Homo sapiens: one gene and its partners. The protein of the gene in region 6 interacts with the protein of the main gene of each other region in a biochemical or structural test. Each region holds a gene or a part of one and is shown on either strand. Other genes may lie near its edges.

The links.
Region 1: the proteins of E2F1 (region 6) and BIRC2 form a complex in vitro, tested with the Homo sapiens proteins (2 studies listed by BioGRID, with this or other methods).
Region 2: the proteins of E2F1 (region 6) and PHB1 form a complex in vitro, tested with the Homo sapiens proteins (2 studies listed by BioGRID).
Region 3: the proteins of E2F1 (region 6) and PURA form a complex in vitro, tested with the Homo sapiens proteins (2 studies listed by BioGRID).
Region 4: the proteins of E2F1 (region 6) and TOPBP1 form a complex in vitro, tested with the Homo sapiens proteins (4 studies listed by BioGRID and IntAct).
Region 5: the proteins of E2F1 (region 6) and SP3 form a complex in vitro, tested with the Homo sapiens proteins (one study listed by BioGRID).
Region 7: the proteins of E2F1 (region 6) and SIRT1 form a complex in vitro, tested with the Homo sapiens proteins (one study listed by BioGRID and IntAct).

Annotation. Positions count from the first base shown.
Region 1 is NC_000011.10:102,353,714-102,357,213, reverse strand, and holds part of BIRC2 (baculoviral IAP repeat-containing protein 2), read right to left. Parts: intron 1-3,500. UniProt on the Homo sapiens protein: Multi-functional protein which regulates not only caspases and apoptosis, but also modulates inflammatory signaling and immunity, mitogenic kinase signaling, and cell proliferation, as well as cell invasion and metastasis.
Region 2 is NC_000017.11:49,408,383-49,411,882, forward strand, and holds part of PHB1 (prohibitin 1), read right to left. Parts: intron 3,458-3,500; coding exon 3,296-3,457; intron 1,092-3,295; coding exon 949-1,091; intron 777-948; coding exon 660-776; intron 1-659.
Region 3 is NC_000005.10:140,120,651-140,124,150, reverse strand, and holds part of PURA (transcriptional activator protein Pur-alpha), read right to left. Parts: 3' UTR 1-3,500. UniProt on the Homo sapiens protein: This is a probable transcription activator that specifically binds the purine-rich single strand of the PUR element located upstream of the MYC gene. May play a role in the initiation of DNA replication and in recombination.
Region 4 is NC_000003.12:133,620,442-133,623,941, reverse strand, and holds part of TOPBP1 (DNA topoisomerase 2-binding protein 1), read left to right. Parts: intron 1-484; coding exon 485-631; intron 632-748; coding exon 749-851; intron 852-3,500. UniProt on the Homo sapiens protein: Scaffold protein that acts as a key protein-protein adapter in DNA replication and DNA repair. Composed of multiple BRCT domains, which specifically recognize and bind phosphorylated proteins, bringing proteins together into functional combinations.
Region 5 is NC_000002.12:173,900,275-173,903,324, reverse strand, and holds the end of SP3 (transcription factor Sp3), read left to right. Parts: 3' UTR 1-2,550; downstream 2,551-3,050. UniProt on the Homo sapiens protein: Transcriptional factor that can act as an activator or repressor depending on isoform and/or post-translational modifications. Binds to GT and GC boxes promoter elements. Competes with SP1 for the GC-box promoters.
Region 6 is NC_000020.11:33,679,886-33,683,385, forward strand, and holds part of E2F1 (transcription factor E2F1), read right to left. Parts: intron 532-3,500; coding exon 441-531; intron 90-440; coding exon 1-89. UniProt on the Homo sapiens protein: Transcription activator that binds DNA cooperatively with DP proteins through the E2 recognition site, 5'-TTTC[CG]CGC-3' found in the promoter region of a number of genes whose products are involved in cell cycle regulation or in DNA replication.
Region 7 is NC_000010.11:67,908,656-67,912,155, reverse strand, and holds part of SIRT1 (NAD-dependent protein deacetylase sirtuin-1), read right to left. Parts: intron 2,901-3,500; coding exon 2,714-2,900; intron 1-2,713. UniProt on the Homo sapiens protein: NAD-dependent protein deacetylase that links transcriptional regulation directly to intracellular energetics and participates in the coordination of several separated cellular functions such as cell cycle, response to DNA damage, metabolism, apoptosis and autophagy.

The DNA of each region.
Region 1 (3,500 bases), on a different chromosome or scaffold from region 6:
GCATTACTCTGATACCAAAGCCAGACCAGGACAACACAAGAAAAGAAAATTATATGCCAATAGCCCTGATGAGCACAGATGCAAAAATCCTCAACAAATACTAGCAAACCGAATTCAGCAGCCTACTAGAAGAATCATATATCAAGTGAGATTTATCCCTGAGATGCAAGGATGGTATGACATATGCAAATCAATAAATGTGATACCACACATTGACAAAATGAAGGATAAAAATCATATAACCAGCCAGGTGCAGTGGCTCACGCCTGTAATCCCAGCAGTTTGGGAGGCCAAGATGGGTGGATCACCTGAGGTCAGGAGTTTGAGACCAGCCTGGTGAAACCCCATCTCTACTAAAAATACAAAAATTAGCTGGGTGTGGTGGCATGCACCTGTGGTCCCACCTACTCGGGAGGCTGAGGCAGGAGAATCACTTGAACCCAGGAGGCAGAGGTTGCAGTGAACTGAGATTGCATCACTGCACTCCAGCCTGGGTGACAGAGCAACACTCCATCTCAAAAAAAAAAAAAAAATTAATAATAATAATAATAATATAAACATCTCAACAGACACAGAAAAAGCATTTGACAAAATTCAACACCCTTTCAGGATAAAAATTCTCACCAATTTAGCTATAGAAGGAATATACCTCAACATAAGGACCATAAATGGCAAGTGCACAGTTAACATCATACTCGATAATGAAAACCTGAAAGCTGGCCGGGTGCAGTGGCTCACGCCTCTAATCCCAGCAATTTGGGAGGCTGAGGCAGGTGGATCACGAGGTCAGGAGTTGGAGACCAGCCTGGCCAACATGGTGAAACGCCATCTCTACTAAGAAATTACAAAAATGAGCTGGGTGCAGTGGCACGCACCTGTAATCCCAGCTACTCGGGAGGCTGGGGCAGGAGAATCACTTGAACCCAGGAGGTGGAGGTTGCAGTGAGCTCAGATTGCGCCACTGCATTCTAGCCTGGGCAACAGAGCAAAATTCCATCTCAAAAAAAAAAAAAAAAAAGCTTTCAGCTTTTCCACTAACATGAGGAACGAGACAAGGGTGCTTACTCTTGCCACGTCTATTCAATATAATACTGGAAGGGTTAGCCAGAGCAATTAAGCAAGAAAAAGAAAAAGGCATCCAAATCAGACTGGAAGAAGTCAAACTCTCTGTTTGCAGATGACATAATCTTATATATATAGAAAACCCTAAAGATGCCACCAAAAACAGTTAAAACTAATAAACCATCCAGAAGTTGTAGGATACAAAACCAACTTACAAAAGTCAGTACTAACAATGAACTATCTGAAAGAGAACTTAAGAAAGTAATCCCATGTACAACAGCACCAAAACAATAAAATACTTAGGAATAAATTTAACCAAGGAGGTAAAAGAGAAACACAATGAAAAACATATGACACTGATAAAGGAAACTGAAAATGACAGAAATAAATTTTTAAACAATCTCGTGTTCTTAAATTATAAGAATATTGTTAAAATGTTCATACTACCCATAACATTCTACAGATTCAATATAATCCCTACCAAAATTCCAATGACTTTTTTATCACAGAAATAGAAAAACCAATCATAAAATTTGTACGGAACTTAAGGCCCAGAATAGCCTAAGCAATCTTGAGAAAAAACAAACAAAAAAAACAACTGGAGGCATCATACTTCCTAATTTCAAGCTATATTACAAAGCTACAGTAATCAAAACAATATGATACTAGCATAAAAACAAAGACATACACCAACAGAACAGAGAGCCCAGAAATAAAGCCACATATACAATCAATTAATCTTTGACAAGGGCACAAAGAACACACAATGTTGAAATGATAAGTCTCTTTAACAAACGGTGTTGGGAAAACTGGATATCCAACACCGTTTTTATGTAAAACAATAAAACCAGACCTCTATCTTATACCACCTACAAAAATTAACTAGAAATGGATTAAAGACTAAACATAAATCCAGAAACCATAAAATTCCTTAAAGAAAACGTAGGCTAAAAAGCTCCTTGGCACTGGTCTTGGCAATAATGTTTTGGGTATGACACCAAAAGCACAGGCAACCAAAACAAAAATAAACTGCGACTACAACAAGCTAAAAAGCTTCTGCTCAGCAAAGGAAACAATCGACAAAATAAAAAGGCAACCTACAGAATGGGAGAAAATATTTGCAAATTATACATTTGATAAGGAGTTAATATCTAAAATATTTAAGGAACTTATACAACTCAATAGCAAAAAAAAAAAAAAAAAAAAACCCAAATAATTCAGGTTAGAAAACGGGCAAAGGACCTGAACAGAAATTTTCCCAAAGATATACAAATGGCCAACAGGTACATGAAAAGGTGTTCAATGTCACTGATCATCAGGGAAATGCAAATTAAAACCAAAATGAAATATCACCTCCCACCTGTAATGATGCCTTATTATCATCGGAGACAAGAAATAACAAAAGTTGGCAAAGATGTGAAGAAAAGGGAACCCTTGACCATTGTTGGTAATTTACTACTGTCATTATGGAAAACAGTATAGAGGTTGCTCAAAAAACTAAAAATAGAATTAGCATATGATCTAGCAATCCCACTTCTGTGTACATATCTGAAGGAAATGAAATCAGTATCTCAGAGATATCTCTACTCCCATGTTCAAGCAGCTATATGGAAACAACTTAAGTGTCTACTAAGGGATGAATGGGGGATGAGCCTGGCTGGGCGTGGTGGTTCACGCCTATAATCCCATCCACTCCGGGTGGATCACTTGAGATCAGGAGTCTGAGACCAGCCTGGCCAACATGGTGAAACCCCGTCTCTACAAAAACAGAGTAATTAGCCGGACATGATGGCAGGTGCCTATAATGTCAGCTACTCAAGAGGCTGAGGCAGGAGAATCGCTTGAAGCCAGGAGGTGGAGATTGCAGTGAGCCTAGATGGTGCCACTGCACTCCAACCTGGACAACAGAGTGAGACTCCATCTCAAAATAAATAAAATAAAATAAAATCCTACCATCTGCAACATGAATGAACCTGGAAGGCATTATGCCAAGTGAAATATGCCAGAGAAAGACAAATACAACTGGCCCTTGAACAACACAGGTTTGAACTGCACATGTCCATTTACACCCAGATTTTTCTCAACCAAATGCAGATCACATTTGCAGATGTGAAACCCACATATTTGGAGGGCTGAATTTTGGATGCACAGGTTCTGCAGAGTCAACTTCTGGACTTCAGTATGTGCGAATTTTGGTATACATGGGGGTCCTAGAACCAGTCCTCCGAGCATACCAAGGGACAACTATACTGTATGGTAACCAAACTCACAGAAACAGAGAGTAGAATGCTGGTTGCCAGGGATAAGGGGGTAGGTGAAATGGGAAGATGTTGGTTAAAGAACACAAACTTTCTGAGGATCTAATGTACAGCACATGGTGACTATAGCTAATAATACTGGACCTTATACCTGAAATTTGCGAAAGAGCATCTTTTAAG
Region 2 (3,500 bases), on a different chromosome or scaffold from region 6:
GAATCTAGAAACACGACCCCTTCCCCTCACCCTCCTCAACCTGAAACGCTATCCTGCCTGCATTGCTTTCTGAGTTATGACATCCAATGTCATATAAACACACAAGCTATAGTGTCTCAAGAGGATAGCTTACGCCTCAGAGATGTCCCTTGCCCCCTATACCAGGCCTGGGGGAATCCAACCGTTCGTTTACACTCTATCACCTTTCACTGGGGTTCCCAGAGCTTACTTCACTGAGCTTCGGACTGTAAAGTGTTAGGAAGCTCCCAGGAGTCAGGCTGGGAGGTCTGTGCTAGGGAGAAGGACTACCCGAGCTGTTCTCTGGTCTCTACCAGGCAGTTTCTGCCTGTGTCAAACAGGGTTAACAAGGCATCACTCTCTGGGTAACAGTTTGGAGAAGGTAAAACATTTAGTGGTTAGAGACTATCTGGATACAACCAGAGGTCATAAGAAAAATGTGTGTGGCAGGGGGAAGGTAAAAGAACCCTCAACTGAAAAACCCACGGAGACTGCCTCACCTCAGCATGTTTCCGTGTTTTCAAGTCTCACATCTAGCAAAGCAGAAGGGAGGACCTAATAGCGTCTACCCAGAAATGGAGCCAGGCACCTAAACGAGAACTGCAGCCCCTTCCCCTCCTCGGTCTCCCGAAGGATCTTACCAAGGACACGTCATCCAGGATGAGCCCAAAGGTGGCGGCTCGCTCTGTAAGGTCGTCGCTCACCTGCCTGGAGACCAGCTCTCTCTGGGTGATTAGTTCTCCAGCATCAAAGCGAGCCTGGTTTCAAAGGGAGGAGCAGAAGGGCAGGTCAGGTTAATGAGGAAGCAGAAAAGGAACCAGGAAACTAGCAGCCACATCCCAACCAACCCACTGCCAAGCGCTTCCTGCCACCTGGCACCCTCCCAGGGTGGTGCTCTGGGCTCGAGGCTAAAGGCCCCTGTTCACTCACCACCACTGACTTGAGGATCTCAGTTGTGATGGACGGCAGCACACGCTCATCATAGTCCTCTCCGATGCTGGTGAAGATGCGAGGAAGCTGGCTGGCGACAGGCCGGAAGAGGATGCGCAGTGTGATGTTGACATTCTGTAAATCTTAGGGTAGGGGACAAACACTGGAGTTAAAAATAAAAACCACTGTAGGAAAACAAGTGTTTTTTTTTTGTTTTTTTTTTTTTTTGAGACAGGTTTTTGCTCTTGTTGCCTAGGCTGGAGTACAATGGGACAATCTCGGCTCACTACAACCTCTGCCTCCCAGATTCAAGCAATTCTCCTGCCTCAGCCTCCTGAGTAGCTGGGATTACAGGCACGCGCCGCCACACCCAGCTGTTTTGTATTTTTAGTAGAGACAGGGTGTCACCATGTTAGGCTGGTCTCAAACTCCTGACCTCAGGTGATCTACCTGCCTCAGCCTCCCAAAGTGCTGGGATTACAGGTGTGAGCCACCGCACCTGGCCACAAGTGGTCTTTTATATGACCTCTCCTACTCCAATTTGCTACAATTTTTATTTATGTATTTTGAGACAGGGTCACATGTTGCCCAGGCTGAAGTGCAGTGGTAAGATCACAGCTCACTGTAGCCGCTTTGACCTCCTGGGCTCAGTTGATCCTCCCACCTACACCTTCCAAGTAGCTGGGACTACACAGGCACAGACCACCACGCCCAGCTAATCTCTGTACTTTTTGTAGAGCTGGGGTTTCGCCATATTTCCCAGGCTGGTCTCAAACTCCTGGGCTCAAGTGATCCAACTGCCTCAGCCTCCCAAAATGCTAGAATTACAGGTGTGAGCCATTACGCCTGGCAATTTTTATTTTTTATTTTTAGAGACAAGGTCTTGCTATGTGGCCCAGGCTAGACTCAAGCTCCTGAGCTTAAGCATTTCTCCTGCCTCAGCCTCTTGAGTAGCTGACACGCACCACTGTGCCTGGCTCCAAATTTGCTACAATTTATAAGCAAATCTGCTGATTATAAGATCCCAGAGGGCAAGGTGCAGGTATGCCTGGTTTCCTTGGCAGAGAACCCAATAGAGCATCATAAAGAGTTTATAATTTCTTAAGAGGCTTCAGTGATAGCAGCTTTTTGGTATCCCCTGAATGCCCTCAGATATACATAATTCAGATTATATGTCTAACAGGTGCCATGCAAAGTTTGCAACACTGAACATTTTAAGACAATAGACAGGGCAATGCTAAGAATTGTAGGGTGAGGCCTTTACATGCTCTGGTGATTGTGGCCAAGTCAGGAGTCAGCCTTGGAGAGGTTAGTTCGGGTCTGGTGGAAACGGTGTTAGACTATCAGTCCAAAGATCTGGGCTATTTACTAATGATGTGGCCTCTCTAAGCCTTAGCCAACCTGAGCTTATTTCCCTGTCTATGAGAATGGGGACAATTTCATTTGCTTTCTGGGCCTTGCGGAAATGTTGGGGAAAATTGAAGGAGAAAACAGACGTAAAAGCACTCTGTCAAATGTGTAACACATATAAGGGGTTAACAGACTGATCCTATGTTCTGCTTCTCATTACTTGGACCATTTAAAGGATCCAGGGAGAGAATTATACTTTCCCCTGGACAATTCAGGCCTGCCTGGAGCCAAAGCACTGTCACGGCTTGCTTACAGATGTCAACAATATGGACCAAGCGCCCATGAGACAGCCCTGAACTGGGCACCAAGAGAGGTGGGCAATGTATTAATACCTACAACTCCCTGATCTCTGGAAGCTCCTATCAATAGTTTTAGAAATAGGTACATAATGTATCCTGAAAACAACTGCAAAACAGTACGGAAAGAAATTCCAAAGAGATGGGAAGATTAGAAGCAGGCTTTTTTTTTTTTTTTTTTTGAGACAGAGTCTCACTCTGTTGCCCAGGCTGCAGTGAAGTGGCACAATCTTAGCTCACTGCAACCTCCGCCCCCCAGGCTCAAGCAATTCTCCTGCCTCAGCCTCTCAAGTAGCTGGGATTACAGGCACCCCCCACCACCGGCTAATTTTTGTATTTTTAGGAGAGATGGGGTTTCACCACATTGGCCAGGCTGGTCTTGAACTCCTGACCTCAGGTGATCCACCTGCCTCAGCCTCCCAAAGTGCTGGGATTACAGGCATGAACCACCGCACCCAGCCATAAGTGGGTATTTCTAAGATTCCATATCAAGCTCTCCAGGGCAAGTAGTCTAGTCATTCCTATGATGTACAGTTCAAACTCTTTTGGATCCTGGTATCCCACAGATGCTCCTGTGACACAGAAGAACAGAGCACCTCTTCCACACTCCCTACTTTACCTGAACCATAGGCAAGACTCACCTTTGCTACCAGTGATGACTGGCACATTACGTGGTCGAGAACGGCAGTCAAAGATAATTGGTTTCTGTACCCACGGGATGAGAAAATGAGTCCCTTCCCCTACCACAATGTCCTGCACTCCACGGAATCGGTCAAAGATGACAGCTCTGTGCCCAGCATCCACTAGGAAGAAAGGACAATGACATGTCATAAAAATCCTCTCATC
Region 3 (3,500 bases), on a different chromosome or scaffold from region 6:
TTCTGAACACTGTGTTGCATAATATCACCAAGACAAAAAATATGTTCACAGGTACACTTTTTGTTATTTTCTTTCTAGAGCACATCTTTGAGGTCATAAGACCGCATCTGGTTAAAATAAAGTCTCTTGCCCTTGCTTCCCTTCCCCCTCAAAGTGATTCAACCCTGAATTCCAAAAAGGAATATTCAATATAACAACTTGAAAACCAGTTGTAACACTTAGACCATAAGGAAACTATATGAACATTATGGAAAACTACATGAAAGAGGGAGCTGCCACTTGCCACCCACTTCACTTCCAGCTTTTTAAGCATGTACCCAGCTAGACTCCTATCTCACTGACTTCAGTGAAACAAACTAACACACCAAATCTAGGCCATCTCAGGCTGGAAGTTAAAACTCGAAGACATCATTTCATATACACATACATATATATTCCCTATCCTAAGCTTTAACTTTGTCTATTTAAACAGTTTAATAAAGCTCACATTTACAAAGGATTTTATTGGCAAATAAAGGCCCATATTAAAAATTTTATCAGAACAAATTTTTGTTTTATACAGCTAACATTAAGAAATATTTTCTTGGCCTTATAAAATATTTTTAATTGCATATAATTTTTGCTTTGGGTGGAATATTGAAAACACAATTCTGCAAGAAATTAGAAAAGACTAGAAACAAAAGTGAAAGTGACTAGCCTTAACTTTCAAAAAATCAAGTGCAAAGATAAATAGTGCAAATAATGAAAACTAGAAATTTTACAGGCAACTTTAGTCTTTCCTGCTTTTGCACTTTTACACATTGACAACTTTATAAACCCTAACAACTATATGCAGCATGGAAATGGGCTATCATTTATCTCCACTGACTAGACTTAAGCCTTTCAAGGACTTGTCTCACAGTCATTTAAATCACAAGTTCTTGACACAGGTTTGGGAATTCACTTCTTTTTAAACAAATTTCTAAGGGAGGGGCTATTTAAGAAGGCTTTGCATTGACTTAAATGAGTTATAGTATATAACTATTATAATTTAAAATCTGACACAATAAAATGTGAAAATTATACTAAAGTGCCAACTCTACAAAATAAGCTATAGTAAAAATAATCCTGCTATTGTTAATGAACCTGACATTCGTAAAAAAGAAAAATTACCTTCAAAGTACAAAATCAGAACCACTTTTTTGCTATTTTTAAAAGAGATTTTTATCACTAATATATAGAGATGTGAGTAAAATGAAACTTCAAAGTAATCTGTCCAAATCACCAGGAATAAATCCATACTAAATTTGACAACAAAGAGTTAATCCAAACATACTTGAATTATGTAACTTAAAAACAAACATTACAGTAATTATTTATCTTAAATAATTTAAAACACTACTGGAATAATGGGAACAGAAATCTAAACACTATCAGCTTACCCTACAAAGGATATAAGAACCTCCAAAATGTACTAACTTATTTTATTAACATTTGCCACCACTGAACTCTTGGGAATACTACAATTTTAAAGTAAGAGAGAAAGTAGGGAAACAGAAACATGAGTTTGGGGGGTATGTTGTCTAATTTTAGAAATACAGTATTATTGAGGGCCTCATAAGGTCTACAAGGTTAAATGGTTGCTACGGATGCAAATGTAAAAGAAATAAAAAAGACACCTAAAATTGCAAGTTAGTGTTTTTACCTGGTTTATTGTCTTCTAAGAAATTTGTGTGGGCCAAAGTCTCAAAATTCTATAAAAGCAAGGAATAATATGTGTCTTTGTGGAGTACAAAATCAAATAATTTGATCTAAGGACCATTTGAAAAGTAAAGGTAAACTACATTGTAACAAGAGCCCAAGAAAATAGATAGTATGTGTGATAAATATTTCTGATAGTTTAAAAAGAATAATGGTGAAAAGCTTGAAATTTTCTTTTCCTCAAAATAATAACTCCCCAGCATCCACTTGCCTTGACCAGAAAAGCTGTCATTCCACAATTGTGCTAATTTGTCCCAGAAAAGCAGACATCCTATACATGAAAACAGACTTGTATAATGCATGATCATTATCATAACTCTAGCTATAGTAACTAACAGCTTTCTCATAATCAATGAGGGACCCATTTTCTCTGGCTTTATTGAAACTTCCTTAGTGAAGATCAACTTCATTTCCTTAGCAAATAACTCTCATTCGGACTCCATCATAGTACCTTTTCCTACCTCTAGTAAAAATTCCTCTCACTTTATTTCCAAACCATTCTCTATATACCTCTCAAACCCCCATCCACAAACACATTAAACAGCTCTCCTCGTCCTACTCTCCAATTTCCAAACCAGTAAGTCTCAGTTCCCAGTAACTTACCTAAAATACACATACTTCTTACTCTCTTCAGTTCACAAGTTTCTTAACATTAATTTAGATACCTTCAAACTGCCAGCTTAAGACTATGGGGAAAATAGCAATCAGAAAAAAACTGCCCAGTTACCTCATAATACTGAAATTGTTCTGGATCATCAGTTAGCTATGTTCTAAGGCAGGAGTCAGAAATTTCTTTACTTCTCTCTGAAGAAGTAAGCTTGAGTGCCACTGGTAGGCCTACAGCAAGAGTAAAAGTGGAGAGAGAAACAAAGAAAAAGGATAGGAGAGAGAAGATGCCAGATGTACATGGTAAGGAGGTAGGTCAAGTACCACCACCAACTACCTGCATTTAAAATTGCCAATCCACTCCAGCTGAATGGGAGTTTGACCCAAACTCAACATGTGTCTGATAAGTCATTAGCTGATGGCTATCATTGTTTGAGCTAGTCAAGATGAATAGGTAATTCACCTGTCCCATAACTTTAACTGCCACTTCACGATAAGGACATATTTTCTTAAATCCTCCTAGGATCCTTCTGTGTTAATAATCTACCTTAGACCAAAACACACACTAACAAGAGTATTTCCATGTTTTTCACAATTCTAAAATAGAAGGACTTGGTCCTTGAACTTGGAGGCCTCTTGAATTATTAAAGTGGAACCAAAATCAAGAAAATTAAACTCTTTAGCTTAAACATTTTTCCATCTAATGCTACAAAATAAGCTAATTGCTAATAATTATCAAAACAATGTGTGTATTTATGAAAACATGAAAATCCTGTGATTCCAAAATGAGTGAAATACTTCTGATGTGTAAGAAGCAACTATATTTTACATAGAGGATCACCACCATGTTTCTGCCTATCAACAGGACAATCTTCCACAAAAGCAAAGGACATCAGGAAGGAAAAACACAAAACAAAACAAATACCAAACGTGGGGACAAAATAAAAATGAATGAGTAGTTATGACATTCTTGTTAAGAAAAATGTTAACAAGTGACCTTTGCCACACTCAGCTTTCCTAAAGACATAAATTGCCTGGACCATTCAACATCAAAACTTGGTAGTTAGCTTAGCAGATTCATTGGCTTGAAACCAATCATTATTTCTTATTTCATCTGGTTGTTCTTTTATCATGAAATTCTACCTGACTCATGC
Region 4 (3,500 bases), on a different chromosome or scaffold from region 6:
TAATAGTCTTGGTTAACTGTACACATTTCAGATCTTTGGCATCAAAAACTTAACATCTTTAGTCCTTAAATACTTAACAAATCTTTAATGGATACTCTTTCTAATTCTCCATTTCCTTGTACTAATTAAAAATGTGATATGAATGGAAAGTTTATAATTATTTGGGGAAAATTTAACATATCAATAGAGTTTAGATCTGTGTTTCTTTTTTTTCCTGGGTATTCTCTGGAGGGTAATTGATACCTTTGCAAAAGCACAGGAATGGTTTCAGATTTTATACTTCAGTGGATATGACATTTAAAACATGAGGACAATCTGTCATTTGTATGATGCAAATTTTTCAGTGTAAACTACTTTTCAAACCAGTTTTGTGAACTTTTTGCCATATTACAGTATAATGTATTGCTTGTCCTTATCCTACTTAACATCATCTATTCATTAAGATTTTGTCAGTCCTGTCTTAAAGCACACCATTGTATTGCAGTGTGCCCAAGAGTGTAAACATCTTCCTGAATCTCTTTATCCACATACTTATAATCCCAAAATGAGCTTGGATATCAGCGCAGTGCAAGATGGCCGGCTCTGTAATAGTCGACTACTCTCAGCTGTGTCTTCAACAAAGGATGATGAGGTAGGAGATATGGATGATACATTTACCCCCTCTTAAGCTAAAGGTATAATCATATATTGCTATGAAACCTTATACAGTGGCTTGGTTTGAGAATTTATAATTTTTCTTTTTCAATAGCCAGATCCTTTGATTTTAGAAGAAAATGATGTAGACAATATGGCCACCAATAATAAAGAGTCAGCACCATCAAATGGAAGTGGAAAGAATGACTCTAAAGGAGGTAAAATATTTTATTTTTTAATTAAAAAAATTTTTTTTGAGACAAGGTCTCAATTTTTTGTGGAGATGGGGTCTTGTCATCTTGCCCACACTGGTCTGAAACTCCTGGGCTGAAAGGATCCTCCTGCCTTGTGAGCCACTGCACCCAGCTGTAAAATATGTTTAAATTACTAAATACAAGCAAAGCATATATTAGAGGATTGATTTGTGGTCCCATGCTGATCATTAAGTGATAATTTGCAAAGTTTTATGTAGTTTAAGTGTAAAGCTTATGAAATTTATGAAACTAGGTTTTTATGGAGTTAGTGTGATACAGCCCTATTCCATTAAAGGTAGGTGAAGTTGGTGATTTTTTAAAAATCTAGTCTTTGGTCCAGTTCTTTTGAGTGATTTTCAAAAAGTTTTCTTATATGTACAATATATTTTAACATATCCACATGGTTTTAAAGATACAAAAAGACATATGAAGAGTTTCTTCCACCCTTATTCTCCAGCCCCCCAGTGTTATTAGTTCCTTATGTATCCTTCTAGAGCTGCTTTATGCATATATAGCCGTAAATATGTTTTTCCCCCATTAAAAAAAAACAAACAAACACATAGGCTGGGCATGGTGGCTCGTGTCTGTAATCCCAGCACTTTGGGAGGCTGAGGCAGGCAGATCACCCAAGGTCAGGAGTTTGAGATCAGCCTGGCCAACATAGAGAAACTCCGTCTCTACTAAAAATACAAAAAATTAGCCGGGCATGGTGGTTGCATGCCTGTAATTCCAGCTACTCGGGAGGCTGAGGCAGGAGAATCGCTTGAACTCGGGAGGCGGAGGTTGCGGTGAGCCGAGATCATGCCATTGCACTCCAGCCTGGGCAAGAAGAGCAAAACTCTTGTCTCAAAAAAAAAAAAAAAAAAAAACATAAATGGTGGACTACTATACATGCTATTTCATACGCTGATCTTTTTGTTACCTTGGGTAGTGTTTTATATCAGTAGATAACTAGGAGCTTCTTTAGTCTTTTTCTTTCTTGCTTTTCTTCCTTCCTTCCCTCCCTTTCCTTCCTGTCCCCCTTCCTCTCCTTTCCCTCTTCCCTTCCTTTCCCTTTCCTTCTTTCTTCCCTTTTCTTTCTTTTTGGGCAACTGTATTGTATTCATTATGAATGGTCCCACTTTGTTTAGGCATCCATTCTTAATAGGCATTTAGGTTATTTCTACTTTCTTGCTTTTATAAATAGTACTGCAGTGAATAACCTTATACATGGATGTCTTTTAATAGATTTAATATGTTCTGTTTTCCTTACTCATTCTAACCTACCAAAGCTTTCCCTATGACTTACCTATTTGGTTAGTCTCACTCTGTTCATTCCAAATGCATTTATTTAATACTTACTCCAGAGTTTAGGCTTTAAAGAAAACCAAAGGTAAATACAGTTGTCTTGTCCCTTGGTATCCATGTGGCAGTGGTTCCGAGGACTTACCTCAGGTACCAAAATCCACAGATGCTTAAGTTCCTTATGTATAAAATGACATAGGATTTGAATTTAACCAATGCACATCCTCCTGTATACTTTAAATCATCTCTGGATTACTTATAATACCTAATGCACTGTAAATGTTTTGTAAATAGTTATATTTTATTTTTTTTACTGGTACTTTTAATTGTGATATTTTTCATTTTTATGTCTTTAAAATATTTCTGATCCATACTTGGTTGAATCCATGCATGCAGAACCGGTGGATGTGGAGGGCTGGATGTATGTTGTGGTCTGTGTTTTCAAGAGCCTTTGGGGAGTCTGGGCACGGTGGCTCACACCTGTAATCTCAGAGCTTTGGGAGGCAAAGGCAAGAGGATTGCTTGATGCTAGGGGTTCCAGATCAGCCTGGGCAACATAGTGAGACCTTGTCTCTACAAAAAATTTAAAAAATTAGCTGGGCGTGGTAATGTACACCTGTAGTGCCAGCTACTCAGGTTGCTGAGGCTGGAGGATCACTTGAGCCCAGGAGTTAGAGGTTATAATGAGCTATGACCATACCACTGCAGTCCAGCCTGGGCCACAGAGCAAGACTCTGTCTCTAAAAAATTAAAAGAATCTTTGGGAAAAATCAGACACATACACAAATGACTATAAGACATCTCAGAGTGTAGTACATACCATGAGAGTCAGAAGCAGGCAGGGAGCTTTACAGAGGGATAATCACTACAGGTCTTGATGAAATGTCTTTGAAGGGGGCCAGGCACGGTGGCTCATGCCTGTAATCCTAGCACTTTGGGAGGCTGAGGTGGGCAGATCACCTGAGGTCAGGAGTTCAAGACCAGCCTAGCCAACGTGGCGAAACCGCGTCTCTACTAAAAAATACAAAAATTAGCCCGGCATGGTGATGGGCACCTGTAATCCCAGCTACTTGAGAGGCTGAGGCAGGGAGAATTGCTTGAACCTGGGAGGTGGAGGTTGCAGTGAGCCGAGGTCGCACCACTGTCCAGCCTGGGCGACAGTGCTAGACTATCACCAAAAAAAAAAAAAAAAAAGTATTTGAAGGGCTTCCTAGTTATTTCATATACAGTGCTTGTGGTAAGGGCTGCTTTTTATGTTCTGCAGTATTCATAGTTTTAGTACATTACTATAGCCTGTAGTTAATATTCAGTAAATGTCAAGTCAATAAG
Region 5 (3,050 bases), on a different chromosome or scaffold from region 6:
TGTTCTCTAACTATAAAATGAGAATGATGCTAGCGTCATCTTCATAGAGTGATTATGGAGATAAATAAGTTAATGCATGTAAACCACTTTCCATAATGCCTGGCACATATTATATTATGTATTAGTAAATGTAAGCACTGGAAGAATCAGTAGTCTTCCTACACTTGAAAATAGTTGTCTTCAACTATTGTTGTATTAATGAGTTAATTCACCTTGTTAAGTCACCTTGATCCACCTAATTGTCAGCCAACATTTATTAACGAAACTGCTAGTATTCGTATTGTGCCTTTTTTATTATGAAACATTTCAAGAATACAGAAAAATGCAGAAAACAATGTAACAAATACCTAAGTATCTATCACCCAACTTTTATAGTCTTATTTTTACCTATATATTTTTTCTTTTAGAAAGGAATGATCACAGTTGTGCCTGAAATCTGTATAGCCCTGTCTCATTTCATTTGTCTCCCTTTACCCACATAAGTAATTGCAGCTCTGAATTTGATGTTTATCAGAATGATACCATGAGTGGTTTTATATCCTTATTATATGTATGCATACCTAGGATTGTTTTTCTGATTTTGAAACTTCATATAAATGGTATCATTCTGTACAAAACCTTCTGGGACTTGTTTTACCACTCATGTTTTTGAGATGTATCCACACTACCATCTTTCTCTAAATCATTCATTTAAATGCTGTAGTTCATTGAATAAGTTTATCACAATGTATCCATTTTCTTCTTGATGAGCATCTCAGTTATTTCCAATTTTTGACTTATAAACAATGCTGCAATGAAATAATTGACATATTTCCTTGTGTACATGTGAGCATTTCTTGAGATATGTATCTAGAACTTGAATCACTGGCCAACAGGATATTCTTAATCTTCAGTTTCACCAGATACTTCCAAATTGATCTCCATAACATGCATACCAAATTATATTCCTACCAGCCATTTATAGGAGTTCACATTTTTTCCATACCCTCCCAATCCTGCCTTGGCAGATATGTTTTTTCCAATGAATAACAATGAAATTTTGTTTTGGGATTTGACAAAATGATTCTAGATTCATCTGGAAGAAAAGCAAGTATAAGTAAGAAATTTAAAAGGGACCTGAAAAACTAAGCAATGGATATATTTAAAAATTGGTACCAGTAGGGATAACCAAATATTTGTTAACTGTAGCAGAAACAATGCATGTTTTTCTCACTGGTTCCACCTTCTATCTCTCAGTCAAGCCCTGCCCAGGTGTGGTAGTCCTCATAGTCTCTCACTGTAGGGGTCTTCTCACATAGTAGACCACTCTCTTGAGTTGAATATTGAAAAGAAGGCTTGGCCGGGGGCAGTGGCTCATGCCTGTGGTCCCAGCACTTTGGGAAGCTGAGTCGAGCGGATTGCTTGAGGTCAGCAGTTCGAGAGCAGCCTGACTAACATGGTGATGAAAAGTACAAAATTAGCTGGGGGTGGTGGCGCATGCCTGCAATCCCAGCTACTCGGGAGGCTGAGGCACGAGAATCGCTTGAACGCAGGAGGCATAGGTTGCAGTGAGCCGAGATTGCACCACTGCACTCCAGCCTGGGCGACAGAGCAAGATTTCGTCTCAAAAAAAAAAAAAAAAAAAAAAAAGGCTTAAGTCCAACTAACTGTTTCCCTGCTGTTCATTTTATCCAACGGCTGGGGATATAGGCTACTGCACATGATGGGTTGATGGATGTGAAATGATAACTCATGACTTTAATTCTAATTTTTCTATATTCTGGTGAGGTTGAGCATATTTTTACAAGTTCATAATCCATTTTCCTCTGATGGGAGTTGCCTGTTTGAATCCTTTGCCCACTTGCTTTTTGGGGTTATTTGCAATTTTTTGCATTGATCTTCAAACATTCTTAATTAATCCCAGGTACATATTATTTTATATATAAGATATATTTTAGAGATATATAGGCTGATAGTATCTTTTCTCAGTCTAAGGCTTATCTTTTAATTTTGTTTATGGTGTTTTGTGTGTGTTGTTTTGCAGAAGTTTTATTGTATCTGAATTGTGGCTTTTGTGTCTTAAGAAATTCTTTACCTACTGTCATAAAAATTTTTGTCTAAAAATTTTATGATTTTGCCTTTCTATTTATCTTGTTAATTCACTTTGAAATTACTTTTGTTTATGGCATAAAGTCCATTATTTTCCATATGGATAATCAGTTGTCTTAGCAGTTTATTGAATGGTCCAACGTTTCCCTGCTGATTATAATGCCCTCTCTGTTATTTATCCTAAATTCTTGACATCCGGTAAGGAAGTCTCCTCTGCCCACCCTTCTCTGTATTTCAAAATGGTTTTGACTGTTCTTGACCCCTTGCTCTTTCTGTGAACTTTAGGATTAAATGATTATGTAGAATTAAACAATCGGGTTAAGGTTTTTTATTAGAATTACATTGAATCTATAGATTAATTTGGGGAAAGAATGTTATCTTTCTATCCATGATAATTCTGTATCTCTCCATTAATTCAAGTCTTTAATGGTTTTTAAAAATAAATTATTGTCTCTTTGAAAATCCTTACACATCCTTTATTGCACTGATTCGTATGTAGTTTATGTTTTTGTTGTTGCTTTGGAGAATAGGCTTCTTAAAATTAAATGTTTAAATTGATCAATGCTGGAGTATATAAATGCTATTGATATTTGTAAAATGATTTTGTCTAATAATCTTACATAATTCTTTTGCTGTTCTAATAGTTTGCCTGTAGATCCTATACGATTTTCTGTGGAGACAGTCATATTGTCCTCAAAGAAGAAAATGTTTGTCTCTTCATTTCCAAGTCTTGTGCCTCTACTTTTAATCAACAGCTTAATGTTAAACAGAAGTGGTGGTGCCAGACATCTCTGTCCTGCTTCTGACTACTATTTACTTTTCTTTCTCACATGTAACTATAACATTATTCAGTTCTTATAACATGGTAAGATAGGTGGAATAGGCATTATCTCCATTTCTAGTTAAAGCTGAGTGGGCCAGAGTATCACTCCAAAACACACAGCTAGTAGATGTCAGAATAT
Region 6 (3,500 bases):
AGCCGAGTGGCTCAGCAGCTCCAGGAAGCGCTTGGTGGTCAGATTCAGTGAGGTCTCATAGCGTGACTTCTCCCCCGGGGATTTCACACCTGTGGGGGTGTGGTCAGGCAAGACAGGGCCCTTCAGCATCCACCCCCACCTCCAGCCAGGCCTGCCACTCTGGCAGTGCAGGGCAGCAGGATGATGGGGGCTGGGGGACAGCCAGCTCCTTCCCCTTGGCGAGGCCAACCACAGCATTCTTCTTCTGGCTGGGGAACTCCTCACCCCTCAGGGCCTGGAGAAACCAAGCCAGGTGGCCACTCCAACTGCCCATCAGGGTCCTCAGAGGCCTGGCTCAAGCCCGACAAGCCAGACGTTAGCTTGCAAGCATGTTTGTCTGTTCACATCCCTAACCTGGGCCTGGTCACAGGGGGTCTGCCCAGCCCAAGCTCCATAGGTACCTTTTCCTGGATGGCGGCCTCTGCCCCGAGCTGGCCCACTGCTCTCGGCCAGGTACTGATGGTCAGTTTCCAGGTCCAGCCTCCGCTTCACCTGTGGCGAAAACGGGAGGATGCCCAGTAACCAGGAGTGAGGCCAGAAGAGACCTGGCTTAAGGCTGGGTGCCTCTGGGCTACCCTCGCCTCAGTTTCTCTAGCAGGATGCCTGAGTGTGTGACTGAGGGAGATCAGAGGGGACATAGCCTGAGAGTCACAGTCCTACCACACAGGACATTCCATTTTCACCACTTCTCTGGGGTCTAGCGGTGGATTTAAAACACATCCGCAAACTTTCTGATCCTTCTCCTTCAAAAGATATAGCCTAATTCTCCCCTTATGAGCCAGACCTGGTAACTTGCTTCTGGGGATGAATGAATGGAATGTGGTGGAAGGGATGGCCTGTCACTTTTGAGACTGGGTCAGAGGCGCTGGAGCTTCCTCCTTGCTCTGTATTGGGTCACTTACTCTGCCATATCATATGGGCACTCAAGTAGCCCTAATGATGGGCAAGAAACCATGGCCTCCTCCCAACAGCAACACTTAGTCACAACTTCTGTTAGCAGCCAGAACCCAAACACTGGCTGAATCTCCAGAGACCCCAAGCCAGAGCTGGATAAGTCTTCCCTGAATTCCTGACCCACAAAAACTATATAATAAATGTTTGTTGTTTTAAGGCACTATTTTTTTTTCTTTTTTAGACAGGGTATCGCTCTGTTGACTATGCTGGAGTGCAGTGGTATGATCACAACTCTCTGCAGCCTAGACTTCCTGGGCTCAAGCAATCCTCCCACCTCAGCCTTCCAAACAGCTGGGACCACAGGCGCATCCCTCCAAGACCAGCTAACTTTTCTATTTCTCGTAGAGATGGGGTCTCCCTATGTTGCCCAGACTGGTCTCAAACTCCTAGGCTCAAGCAATTCTCCCATCTCAGCCTTCACTGTAGTCGTGCTGGGACTAGTCAGCCACCATGCCCAGCTAAGCCACTGATTACATAGGTCCCTTGGCTAAATCACCTTCTCTCTGGTTTTTGACTAATCTATACGCATGGTAGCAGCTGGTGCTCATCAAGTTCCTTGCATCCATTAGTTCATTCCATTCAACGGACTGGCTGTATAAAAATGGCCCCATTTTCCAGATAAGGCAACTAAAGCCCAGGGAGGCCCAGGAAGTGGTAGAGTCAGGATTTGTACCCAAGACGGTCTGAGGAAGAACCCAAGCTCTAAGCACTCTGGCTTAGTTCAGACACTCCAGGATTGGGACTGTCCTGGAGGTCTCACAGGCTGCTCAAAAGTACCCGGACCAAAACCAGACTGATCTTCCCCTCCACCATCCACAGGGTTTCCTGAGCTAGAGTTCCTGACCTGTCACCCTCCTCACATGCAGCTACCAAGAACTGCTCATCACCACGGCGATCACCACCTTCCCAGTGGGCTGCTGAGCAGACTCCACACTGGTCTCCCTGCCTCTGCTGCAGCCAGTCCTCCTACAAACCTTACCATGCCGCCGCCCCTGCTTAAGGCCTTCCTCCAGCTCCCCATTGCCTTTGTACTCTCATCTGCCACTGCTTCTCTAGAGGAACCCGAGTCACGTTTTCCCAGAAATCTAGACTGCCCTTGCATCCCTCCCACCCTCCCCACTTCACGCCTGCTCCCTCTACCTCTGTGGGCAGAAACCTTACGCATCAGCTAGGAGGTGTCACCTCTTCTCCCTCTGAACTGCCTCAAACCCAACCTTTTGCCACATTCTGTCTCTCCCTACACATTTCTGCAGATGTATCTATCTCACCCTCAGAGGTGTCTGAATCACTTGAGAATCTATAGTGTCTGCCATGGAGCCTGGCATCAACAAATGTTTGCTGAATGAACCCCCCCCATGCTGATGAACCACTCCCTCTTGTGCACATTCACTGACTTTTGAAGGCACCCAGGGGAAAGAAGAGCTGTTGTGCTCTAAGCACTGTGTACTCAACTGCTTCCCCTGCAACCCTCCGGCCACCTTTTGGCAGGTGCTATGATGGCCTCCACCTGAGAGAGGCCACACAGTGAGAGGTGGACCCAGGACTTGCACCCTAGTTGGCTGGTACAGAGCCCACACTCATACCCGCCACGTGCCCCACCTCCCCAGAACCCAGCCAGAATGTATCCCCCTCCATACTCGCCCCTGGGGCCCAAACCCTAGCATGCTTCTGCCATCTGCACCCCTTGCCTTCTCCCTGGGATCCCCACCCTTGTCCACCCCTGAAGGCAGGTCAGTGCCACGCCCTAAAACAAAGGCTTGAGTGGATGCCATTTCTGCCACTTCTCCCTAGATAAACACTGGCAGAGGGGCCCCGAAACGCAGGGGTGAAGACATTCACTGCTGAAAAAATCTGGATGACTCGAACACCCATCCATGAAGGGGGTCACGAAAGCTGTGCTTTGTTTAGCCCCTTGAACACCACGCAGCTGTCAAGGACCGAGGCAGGTTGACAAGAATCCCCTCACACATACAGACAAGCAAAACACTGTCACAGGGCGATATATTTATATGATCCCTTTTGGATTAAAAAGCTCATGAAACTTTTCTCTGGTTCAGTTTATATTATTATAGAATACATTTCGGGGCAGCCTCTGGAAGGACTGTGGGAGACCAGTGCCATATCTGAATGGTGTGAATGATACAGGAAAAACTACAATTTTTAAAACTTTAAAAAACAAAAACTGTCACAACCACCACAAACAAAAATAGCCTTAGGGAAAAAAAGGAAAAAAATGAATAGGGCTGGGATCCTGCCGTCAACTTTCTAGTTTCTTAAGAGTTAAGTTTTTGGCCAGGCGCAGTGGCTCACGCCTGTAATCCTGGCACTTTGGGAGGCCGAGGCGGGCAGATCACTTGAGGTCAGGAGTTCAAGACCAGCCTGACCAATATGGTGAAACCTCATCTCTACCAAAAATACAAAAATTAGCCGGGTATGGTGGTGCACGTCTGTAGTCCCAGCTACTCGGGAGGCTGAGGCAGAAGAATCGCTTGAACCCAGGAGGTAGA
Region 7 (3,500 bases), on a different chromosome or scaffold from region 6:
TGTGGTGAGGATTAAATGAGTTAGTCAAGTGCACAGAAGAGTTCTTGGTACATAAATGTTCTACTTAAGTAGCTCCTGATATAAAGAAGGTGAGCTGGGTACAGTGGCTCACGCCTGTAATCCCAGCACTTTGGGAGGCCGAGGCAGGCGGATCACCTGAGGTCAGGAGTTCAAGACCAACCCGACCAACATGGTGAAACCCCATCTCTACTAAAAACACAAAATTAGCCGGGCGTGTGGTAGCGCATGCCTCTAATCCCAACTACTTGGGAGGAGAACTGCTTGAACACGGGAGACTGCAGTGAGCCGAGATCATGCCATTGCACTCCAGCCTGGGCAATGAGGGAGGGAGGGAGGATAGGAGGGAGGGAGGGAGGGTGGGAGGAAGGAAGGACGGACAGATGAACGGAAGGAAGGACAGACAGAAGGATGGACGAAGGAAGGAAGGAAGAACGGACGGGAAGGATGGACAGAAGGAAGGACTAACAGAAGGAAGGATGAATGGAAGGAAGGACAAACGGAAGGGAGGGAGGGAGGGGAGGGGGGGAGGGAAAAAGTCATATAAACATATTCTACGCTATTATAAACCTGTTTCTTTTTTTAATTATCTTTGCAACACATCATACTATCCCACAGAAAGCTTTTGAAAGAAAAGTTTTTAAGGACCAGGCATGGTAGCTCATGCCTGTAATCCTAATGCTTTGAGAGGCAGAGGAGGAAGGATCACTTGAGGCCAGGAGTTTGTGACCAGCCTGGGCAACAAAGTGAATCCCGTTTCTACAAAAAAAAATTTAAAAATTTGCCAAGCATGGTGTGCGCCTCTGGTCCTAACTACTCAGGAAGCTGAAGTGGAAGGACTGCTTGTCCCCAGGAGTTGAAGGCTGCAGTGAGCTGAAACTGCACCACTGCACTCTAGCCTGAGCTACAGCAAGACACCCGTCTCTAAAAAATAAAAAGAAAAGCTTTTAAGCAGAGTGCCTTTGATTTTGCTTTAAGAAGAGCAACTCAAGAACAAAGAGATTTGTATATTAAATTTTCATGTTTCATTTAATTGCAAATTGTCTTGTATTCTACTTTAACAGAATTTCACAGCTAATTAGGTAAGACTGAGTTAACTGCTAAAGCCACGAGATATGGGATAGACACAAAATTGAAGAGCTTGACTCCATGTTTCTTCCAACTGTTTACTCTGGCTGCCTTGACTGCTGATGTGGGGTCTAATTCAATTCTCTGGCTAGGGATTTAATATTTTTCCTCTCCTCTTTCCCTCACTTATGAAAGGACACATCTGATGCAACTGAAATCTCTCTCTCTCCTCCTCTGATTCTAAACTAGAGGAGGAAACAGACAGTATGAGAATATATATGACAAAGAAATTTTCCTGAGAGTAATAAGGATTTAAATTTTATGTGAACACTTTTATATACACACCCTTTTGGGTAAACTATATCGACATATCACCGTTATGGCATGGCTGTTACTACAAGAATGAACCAATCATTCTGAGCCCCCAAATTCCATCTTACATGGTATGTTACACTTCTACCAAACTATACATTTGAATTTATTAAATGTGAAATCAATTAAATTTGAAAGATCAAAACTGTAATCAAAAAATATAAGGATAAAGGACCATTTCATAAATTAATTGATGCTAACCCTTGCAACATTAAAAACACATTCCACCAAAAAGTCTAAGTTGAACTCTACCTTTGTCTTAATTTTTCACATAAATTAGAAGTAGAGTTTAGCATTACTTCTGGGTTTGTTTTTGATTTTTTGAGACAGAGTCCCACTCTGTCACCCAGGCTGGAGTGCAGTGGCACATTCTCGGCTCATTGCAACCTCTGCCTCCTGAGTTCAAGCGATTCTCATGCCCCAACCTCCCAAGTAGCTGGGACTACATGTGCACACCACTATGCCCAGCTAATTTTTGTATTTTTAGTAGAGACAGGGTTTCACCATGTTGGCCAGGCTGGTCTCAAACTGCTGCCCTCAAGCGATCCACCTACCTCGGCCTCCCAAAGTGCTGAGATTACAGGCACGAGCCACCAACATTACTTGCGTTTTGACAACCCTCCACCCCCCATCAAAATGTCAGATTCACCAGTCTCAATGAACAATGCCACCTAAAAAAACAGTTCAGCCAGATGTGGAGGCTCGTGCCTGTAATCCTAGCTACTCAAGGGGCTGAGGCAGGAGGATCACTTGAGCCCAGGAGTTCGAATCCAGCCTGGGCAACACAACAAGACCTCATCTCTACTAAAAATAAAGAATTTCTGGCCAGGCATGGGGGCTCATGCCTGTAATCCCAGCACTTTAGAAGGCAGAGACAGGCGGATCACCTGAGCTGAGGAGTTCGAGACCAGCCTGGCCAACATGGTGAAACCCGGTCTATACTAAAAATACAAAAACTAGCCAGGCATGTTGGTGGACGCCTGTGATCCCAGCTACTCAGAAGGCTGAGGCAGAAGAATCGCTTGAACCCGGGAGGCGGAGGTTGCAGTGAGCCAAGATATGCGACTGCACTCCAGCCTGGGCAACAAGAGGGAAACTCCATCTCAATAAACAAACAAACAAACAATTTCTAAAATTAGCTCTTCACCACTCTTTCAAACAGAAGCAGAGTTAAGATTACTAGCGTCTATTATACAGACCCACAACCCATGACATTATATATAGAAATGTTCTCCAAAAACCATCACCAACTTACTTGGAATTAGTGCTACTGGTCTTACTTTGAGGGAAGACCCAATAACAATGAGGAGGTCAACTTCATCTTTGTCATACTTCATGGCTCTATGAAACTGTTCTGGTAAATTTTCACCAAAAAACACAATCTCTGGTTTCATGATAGCAAGCGGTTCATCAGCTGGGCACCTAGGACATCGAGGAACTACCTACATATTTTCAGATTTTGGTTGAGGTAGAGAAGCAAAGAGTAAGCCCAAGTTAGAAATAGTCAACATTTCCATACCTCTAAGAATACATTTCAGAATTATTAAAAAAAAAACAAAACAGAAAAGCTATGGATAAACAGCAACTGTCAATGATGGGTAGTTTATTAACATACTATGAAACAATGAAATACTATGCTCTTGTTATAATATCTATGTAGAAAAACACTTGACATTGAAGAGTCCATCATATATTAAGAGGAAAAACATAATGTGTGTATATACACTAAATGGGAATTGATCCTTTCAAAAAAAAATAGACATTTGTCAAATAAAATGATTCCATTTTATTTATTTGAGATGGAGTCTTGTTCTGTTGCCCAGCCTGGAGTGAAGTGGCATGATCTCAGCTCACTACAACCTCCACCTCCCGAGTTCAAATAATTCTCCTGCCTCAGCCTCCCAAGCAGCTGAGATTAAAGGCATATGCCACCATGCCAGGCTAATTTTTGTATTTTTAAGAGAGACGGGGTTTTGCCATGTTGGCCAGGCTGGTCTCACTTCTGACCTCAAATGATCGACCCACCTCGTCCTCCCAAAGTG